2 separate regions of the Homo sapiens genome follow, and region 1 is reported to be linked to region 2. The links are microRNA targets in miRTarBase. Many come from high-throughput screens and were not tested one by one. Region 2 holds a microRNA gene; the other region holds the end of a gene's coding sequence.
Evidence for each region. The annotated mature microRNA hsa-miR-3618 reads UGUCUACAUUAAUGAAAAGAGC and lies in region 2 at 2,588-2,609, opposite strand. An mRNA with a match to its seed (bases 2 to 7 or 8) in the 3' UTR can be bound and repressed. Matches are read on the target gene's strand: a 7mer-m8 pairs with bases 2 to 8, a 7mer-A1 pairs with bases 2 to 7 and ends in A, and an 8mer does both.

Region 1 (4,166 bases), not on the chromosome of region 2:
CCCATTCCTTAGATGAGGAAACTGAAACTCAGAGAGGTTAAGTAACCTGCCCAAAGATGCTCATCTAGCAAGTAAGTGGTAGAGCTAGAATTGGACTGGGATTTGTTTGACCGTTTGTGTCTTAGAGTATTCCAAGTTCCTATCCCTTGTTTTAGAACCTGGGCCCACACTTGCATGTGATAACTGAGCTTAGAGCAACAGCTGGATATGATATCTAAGTATAAACGCAATAAAAGTAATTGGTACATTCTTTTGGTTCACATTAGGTTTGAACGACCAAGTGCATGCTGGCCACTGGGAGTGGATCGGTGGTGAACCTGTTGCCTTCACCAATGGGAGAAGAGGGCCCTCTCAACGCTCCAAGCTTGGAAAGAGCTGTGTTTTGGTTCAAAGACAAGGGAAATGGCAAACAAAAGACTGTAGGAGAGCCAAACCTCATAATTATGTGTGTTCCAGAAAACTCTAAATATAACAGACCCTACAGGGGGCCACCTGGAGTTTGTCACCTATTTATTCACAGGATCTGTGAATATTGCTCCATAGAAAACAAATTGTTATGATTGAGTGGGTATACCTTTGTGATTCTGTCTAGTGAAAATGGGACATTTTTAATAGTGCCAGAAAGATTGATAAATAAATATTTTTTACAAGATAAGATACAATTTTTGTATCTCAATACCTTTTAAAATAAATGCCAGCAGTATTATAAAGTGTAAGGTTTGTTTATTCCAGAAGACCCTCACCCTTACCCCATTCCAAATCTCAGGGAGCACCAGTCTCATAGTCCTTGGATTTTTTTAAAAAAAATTTTTGGTCCCGTTACCTCTAATGAATTTATTCTGAAATATGTATCGTAGGTGCTCCTACCACTTTAGTCTGAGTGAAGCTAACTCTACTAGTTCATTAAACCAAAGTTGAACCGCAAAGTTGTCCCTTTGGAGCCCTTTAAATGTGAAATCTAAGATTAGAGGCTGGGGTTGAAAAAGAGAATTTTCTATGATGAAAAAGAAAGACTTTAGATGAAAGAATCTTGTAGGTGGAGGCTCATCTACAAAGCTGTAGTTCAGGTAAGAATTCGGGGGGCTGGCTGTACTCAGAGTTCTACTCATCACTATTCATGAAACAGATCTCCCTTTCCAATTTGAGTGTTGGCATTGTACCATCCCAAAGCTAATGATTGGGTTTCCCCAGCCTTACAGAGTCATGAGAAATTTCAAGTAACATAATCTGTTCCTCTGTGTTTATTGTACTGACAAGCATTTCTCAGGGACACTTGGGATAAGGAGTATATATGAATGATGGTTGACACATGGAAGAAAAATACTGCTTCCTCAGAAATGTCCTGATGAACTGTGCTGATGAACAGAGAAAAATAATACCGAAAACAGAGCCCCTGAAAGCCTACATTCTCGGAAAGGATTTTGAGGAATTTTGAGCCACCTTAAATCTTTAATATTTGCAGAAATGCCATGTTAACTAGATTCTCTAACGGAAAGGTACCTTATTAATTTATAATCTCAGGTGAGTGGAACATTTTTGTAACAATGAAGTATGTTGCAGCGTTACCAGAACTCCCTTCTGAAATCAAGGTTTAACAGTTATAGGAAATTAGAATGTCTGAAACATTTATTTAAAGTTTTTCTCTTTTCATAATCACTGAGAAATATGGTTGTGCCAAATGTCACTTGCTCTATGAGCACCAATGTAACTTCAGAATCAAATTGGGGTTATCAAGTAGGCTAGAGCTCTGGTGCTGGTTTTATTATAAAAATACCTTGAGTGTTGTAGACACTAAAACTGCTTGAAGAAAGTCAGTTCAGTTTCTGGGATATAAAAACATGGCAAGCTTTTTTTATTTCAGTTCATTTATCAAGGTTGTAATTAATAGAAACATTTAGAAAGAGATATTGGAATATGATCCAGACATTCTGTCTATTACTTAAATCTAAACATAATTATAGTGTCAGAGGGTCCTTACCTGAGATGTCGCAGGTGGGCTCCAGATTGGCATAATGTACAGGTTCTCTGTGAGACACAAGCAGTTTCTGGCATTTAACCAAAAGATGCCACACCTATCCTCTTACCAGCTCCTTTCAAATTCCTTCTGGTCCACAGGCTTCTTGCAGTATGGAAATGTGAGATTTGGGCTAAAGAAAAAATAGTTGTTTACCTAAAGGGTTAAGTCCTAGGAAGGAAGTAGAAGTTTGGGAAATGAGGGATTCAAGGGCCACTCCTTCCACTGGAACTCTAAAACTATATAAACCATCTAAAACTGGAAATCTAGAACTATGTCAACTGTGTAGAACCTTGTCAGCATGGCAGATTTATTATACATTTCTGCAATATAAATGATAAATGATACTGAACTAATTGCAAATGTTAGCATAAAGAGTGTTTTGATTTTTATAACAATTAGAAATGCTACAAGAATATTTAAAAATATTCCTGATCATGAAAGCATTAATCAAATTAGAAAATCCAAGTCATTTTAAGAAGATAAAAATAGAAATTCAGGCAAGTTTGGGTGATGGGCGGTATTCATCACAACCTTCATTTTATTCTTACAATTGAGCTTTGACTCAGGGGGAAAAGAAGTAAATGATTGTCAAGGTTCCCTCTGCCTTGATTGATAGTTTCTGATGGGAGTGGGAAGGAAGGAATTGGAGTAATGGGTAGAATGGGAATGAGAGATTACGGGAGAGAGAGATGAGATGGGTTGAACAGAAGAGGATGGGAACTGATGGTAGCTAGGAAGGAAAGCGTCAAGAAGGACCTGAATGTACCCAGCTTTTCTCCCCAAACTTCAATACCACCTCAGGAAAAGGCCCACTGTGTCCAGGGGCGTCAGTCCAGCTCAATAGTGTCTAGCTTTTCAGAATCTTCTGATTGTTTGGTCTTTAACAAAAACATAGCATCTATTTGCTAACAATAAACTTAAGCAACATATGATAATCATTTCATCTCCTTCCAAGAAGTGGTGAAAATGAACCAGGTGACATTAATTTAACTTCTGTTTTTGTTTATTTTTAATACAACCAAAAAGATATGCACATATTTTAATTTACATTATGGTACTGTATAATTTAAACCATAAACTGGTGCTGATTAATTTCTGCAACAAAGCAGCATATTAAATGTACTACATCTAGTGTTGTAGCAAAATTAATAAACTTGTTTTAAGTTCTGAGACACTTTCCTTTAGCTTTTAACGTTTTATCTTATTCCTGGGGGCACATGGGTTTTGGATTTTAGTGATTCTATTTAGCAAGGGATGGAGGAGAAAAGTCAACATGTTTTTTATCTTTATTGGTCAGACCAGCCTTTCGTTGTATCGCTTCCATGTGTCCATACATCCAACCACCATTCATTTGACAAATATTGAACATGGCATGCCAACCATGCAACTGACATTGTTCCAGATACTGGAGCTATTGTAGGGAATAAGATAAAAACAGAAGTATAAAAGCATAGCATATATATGCAAATTTATAATAGCTTTTTACACCTCAAGCTTTTTATCAGGAAGGAAGTCACAGTGGAAATCAGTGATTACATTATCCCTTTTCCTAATTGAAGGGAAACACACAGATACAAACAGCTCAGGCTGAATTTTGTTATATTTCTTTCTTGATTAAGAAACTGATATTAACTTCCTAACTTTTAATCAGGTCAAAGTGTTATTGATAGCAGCCGTCTCAAATTTTCTGTCTCCAGAATCAAGTTAGGAACTAAAGTTTTTATATCTAGTTAATTGATTTTGTAACAACTACTTTTTCCAAAATGATGAGTACATGTCTCTGTATTTTAGGGATTCCTAGAATAACAGAAATTAAAGAGAGATACCTTTGATATCATCTTATTTAATACTCTTATGTTACAACAGAGAAAGTTACTGTGTGAAGAAATCAGCACTAGAACTGAGGTCTTCCACATTTTAGGCTGAATCTTTTCTAATTATTCCACATATCTATTAGCATTCTGAGCAGATAGTTTTATTATATTCAAGTAAAATATACTCATCTTTGAATGATGAGTATAATAAAATTCACCGTATACTTGAAAACACTATCATAAGCAAAAGGCAGACACAAAGGGTCACATATTTTGTGATTCCATTCATATGAAATGTTCAGAATAGACAAATCTATAAAGACAGAAAATAGATT
Region 2 (4,000 bases):
CCAGGCCAGAATGGCTGCTGACCAGTGAGCTGTGCAGGACGAATGTGGGTTTACCTTCTGAATGAGCCTGTTGAAAATGCAGCACCAAACCAGCCTCCTAGAGGCCCCGAGGTCAAGACTCCTGCCCCCAGCCCCAGAAGCTGAAGCCCCAGGTTTACCCTGCCTGCAACCGTCTAGACCAAAAGCCCTCCTGCTTAACTGCTACCAACACGACATAGGCAGCAACATGTGGCACCTGGCATAGCTAACTTGTCCCCTCAATGGCCCAAGGAGGATGGCCATGTGCCACCCGCCCCTTGCTTTGCTCCCAGTCGCACCCTGCCACCTTGTGCACCCCAGCCCTCAGCCTGGGGTCTCACCTGTGAGCCTGAGTCCCCGTGCATCTCTTCAGTCCCTCTACCGAGCCCCACATCTCCACCAGGACCCTCATAGGTGCCTCCAAGCCACCAACTCCGACTCCCCCAACACCTGCACCACATCGATGACAGAGCCTCACAGTGCAACTCTGGGCGCCTCTCAAGTGCTCTCCCCACTACCCTCAACTCAAAGTTGAGGAAGTGCCACGTCGACCAGGGCACTTCCACCCTGCCCAGCTGAAGTGCACACACCATGCTGTGGCCCAGAAGCCATGTTGTTAAACAAAAATCAGGTAACACCACTTGCTTCTGGTGGCTTCCTGTGACACTTGGTCCAGGACTAGAACCTGGATCACAACTATCACCTGCCATCTCACTGTGTACCCACCTTGCCCTTGGTCTCCACACCCTCCAGCTGATGGTCATGCTGGCTCCTGGCATATACCAACATCCCCTCCTGACCCCCTCAGAAGTCCCCTCCCATTCCTCTGCACAGTGCCTGCTGCTCTGTGGTTTCCATAGCACACACCAGGATCCGCATCTGGGTCATGCATCAGGACGTCCTCCCATCCTGTGTTTCCCTCCTCAGATATTTCTGTCCTGTCCTCAAACATGCCTCCACCCAGCCCACTACCTGGCACCAGAGCTCTCTCAAAGCATTTCTGCTAAGGAAGCAACCACCCCTCCACTGCCCTGGAACACCCACTGCTTCTGACCCACACACGTACTTTTGAGCACTGTTTTAATCTTGGTCATCATCGGCTGCACACTTGTCTCTCCATCGGACGGATGGTCGCTGTCTCCGCCATATTTTTCCTCTGTTCGCCTCTTTTTGGGGGCACAAAGGCCTTCTTCCAGCAGAGCATCCACATCGTTGTCAAAGTCATCCTGCAAAACACGCTGTTCAGACACCAGAGCCCCTGGCGCTCATGCTCCTGCAACAGGAGAGCTCAACAGCATTCCTGAGAACAGACACAGAAAGGAGGTGCTCTCAGGGGGCCTAGATGTGCCCTTAGGGTGCATGATCATCTGAAAAACAAACAGGATGAAGCTACCAGCTGACACCAACACACCTGGTCCAGGGGCACACACTGCCAAGGAGCGTAACTCAGCAGCACCTGCTGCCCCACGCGCTAGATCAGGGATGCAGGGCCTACCCATGGGCCAAACTTTTCATTAGGAAACTTTAAAAATCTGGACTCCTTACATCTTTCTCTTCTCCACATTAACATTATTCCACCTCAGAGGGGATTTTGGTTTTTGTTTTTTTTTTTTTTAATTTCCCTGCTTTCAAAAGATGCTGCAATTCCCAAATCTCTCTTTGGGTTTTGCTAAGAGCCCTCTAGAGGAGGGGCTGCCAACATACCTCGTAGGGGAAATTCAAGGCCTCTTCATCCACTCTGTCTCTCTGAACGATTGCTTTAGCCGTGAACCCGCCTGCTCCTTCTTCATCTAGCTCCAAATTGTCAGTAAAATCTTCTAACTCATCGAGCACTGCATACTCCACTCTCTTTTCCTGATCCAGCTCATTCTCCTCATCCTTCTTATCAGCACTCTCACCCCCTATGCCTACCCCGTCACCAACACTCCCGCCAAAGGGACAAGCATGCACGTCCCCACTGACAGGGCTAAGGAGCAGACCGCACTCCGCCCGCACGTCGCGCTCTGCTCCTGTGTACAGCACCTTCCTGTCCTTACTCCTGCAGCTCTCGGTAAAGCTCACGCTAATCTTTACATCCTTAAGCAACTTAAGGTCAGGGGAGAACTTCCGGACCGCAGGTGCGTGCCGGGCGGTGCGCGGGCTGTGGCCACTACAGTTCGGGTCTATGAGGAGGCGGCCCTTAGAGAAGGATCCTTTGGAGAGAAGAGAAGCTCCGTAGAAGTTGAAGGGGTCCTCAGCAGGGAGTTCGGACTGTCCATCACCACCAGAGCCAACGTCCATTACCTCTGCACCACTGGACGTTTGCAGGGGAGGTGGTGGAGACTGCTCACGGGGCAGCGCTTGGAAGGGGCGAGCTCGGCTCTCCATCACCGCTTCTCCTGCGGGCCCACACGGGAGCGGAGAGGGGCTCTCATCTGTCTCCATATTAAAAGCGCTTAAGACTAGTTTACAAGACCAGAGTTTTACAAGCCCTCACATAAATCTACACAGCTAACATGCACAAGTCCGCTGAGACCCGGGCGCGTCCTGCCGCGCTGTGCGCTGGCGGCTTAGTCAAGCTGGCCACATTGCTCTTTTCATTAATGTAGACAGCTTTTAGAACCACTGCCTCAATTATTGGAAATCACAATGCACTCAGCTTAAGTGACTGGCGACTAAGCGAGTCTGTCTTCATGCCGGAGTGGCACCTTTCTTCTTCTACCTGCAAAGAAATTTAAAAATATCGTCACAAAATGACAGAAACCTTCCAATTCCCTGGTACCAAGTTAAAAGCCAAGCACTATTAACAGCATAGTAAAGGGCTTCAAAATAATATTCCCTAAGAGGACTTTTTAGGCATCAAAACAAACTAACCTTACTTTTATTCTTCAGAACCTGAATTATAACTTAAGTCCAAAGTTAAATATTTTGTTAATGCCCACTTTAATTCCTACTTCAGAAACACAAAAACTATATAATCATAAGGCTCAAAAAATATTTTAAAAATTTACACTAAACTCCACCACAGCATTCTTCTAACTCAGATAAGCAAGCATGCAGTGGGAGGCACCCTTTCTGGAACACACAGAAGGCGCGTGGCCTCCCTCAGGCCACCAGAGCACAGCAATCCACTCACCTGCAAGGGCTGGGTCAGTCAGAGGGCGAGCGCGAGACCCTCAGCTCAACTCTGCGGCACTAGGGGCCTCAGAGGCATGGCCAGGCGCTCTGCTACCCAGGGACCCCAGGGCTCTCCTGGGCCCACAGGGTAGCACGTGGACGGGGACAGTGATGCAGCGTGCTGAGGTCACCAGAGGTGGCAGCATAGTTCTGTTCCCGATGGAGGAGAGGGGTGGGTGGCTGTGGGGAAGGGACCTGCCAGGATTTGGGGTGGGGAGCCACAAGAGACAGCTGGAGCCGAGGCACAGAGAGGCCTGGGTGCCACCTGCAGCCCGTTCCGCCCTGGGGACAATAAGGAGCCACTGAAGGTGAAGCGACTCTCATGCCACAAGTAGGTTCCTACTTGAGAGGGGAGACCCACAGCTGTGCCAGGCAGAAGCAACTGCATCCAAGGCACGGGGACAGTCCTCCAGGCCAGAGGACAAAGGTGTGAAAGAGGCCCTGGCAATGGGCCAAGAACAGTGTCACAGAACTGACCGCACTTGTTGACCCAACGGAGGTGGATAGCAGAGAAAAGAGGGAACTAAAGACAAGGAAGGACACCCAAATTCCAGCATGCAGGCAGGAGCCTGGCGAGGAGAACAGAGGGGACCTCCAGGCAGGCTCTGAAGGTGCCGAGGCCACAACTCTGGAGCCATGACTGGTCCAGATACGGAAGGCCAGGACGCACTGAGGAGGTAGTCGCCAAACCCACAGGAGGAAGGCCACCCAGAGATGAGGGTTAAGGATGCAACTCTAGGAAGCCTTACTACAGAGGAAGCATGAAGAAAGGGACAACATGAAGCAGGGAAGATGGGTCTGAGGGGGCAGCCAGAAAACCCTGCAT

Region 1: miRTarBase lists FREM1 as a target of hsa-miR-3618. The part of its 3' UTR that is shown has no 7-base or 8-base seed match.

Annotation. Positions count from the first base shown.
Region 1 is chr9:14,733,696-14,737,861 of GRCh38, reverse strand. It overlaps FREM1 (FRAS1 related extracellular matrix 1), which reads left to right. Exons shown (of 37, transcript NM_001379081.2): 37 at 267-710. The coding sequence ends at 466. Among named protein-coding and RNA genes, the nearest start is that of CER1, 13 kb to the right of the region's middle.
Region 2 is chr22:20,084,406-20,088,405 of GRCh38, reverse strand. MIR3618 (microRNA 3618) reads right to left here and starts at 2,660; the gene lies at 2,573-2,660. DGCR8 (DGCR8 microprocessor complex subunit) reads right to left here. Exons shown (of 14, transcript NM_022720.7): 2 at 1,723-2,719; 3 at 1,085-1,244. The coding sequence starts at 2,442. It overlaps MIR1306 (microRNA 1306), which reads right to left and starts at 2,348; the gene lies at 2,264-2,348.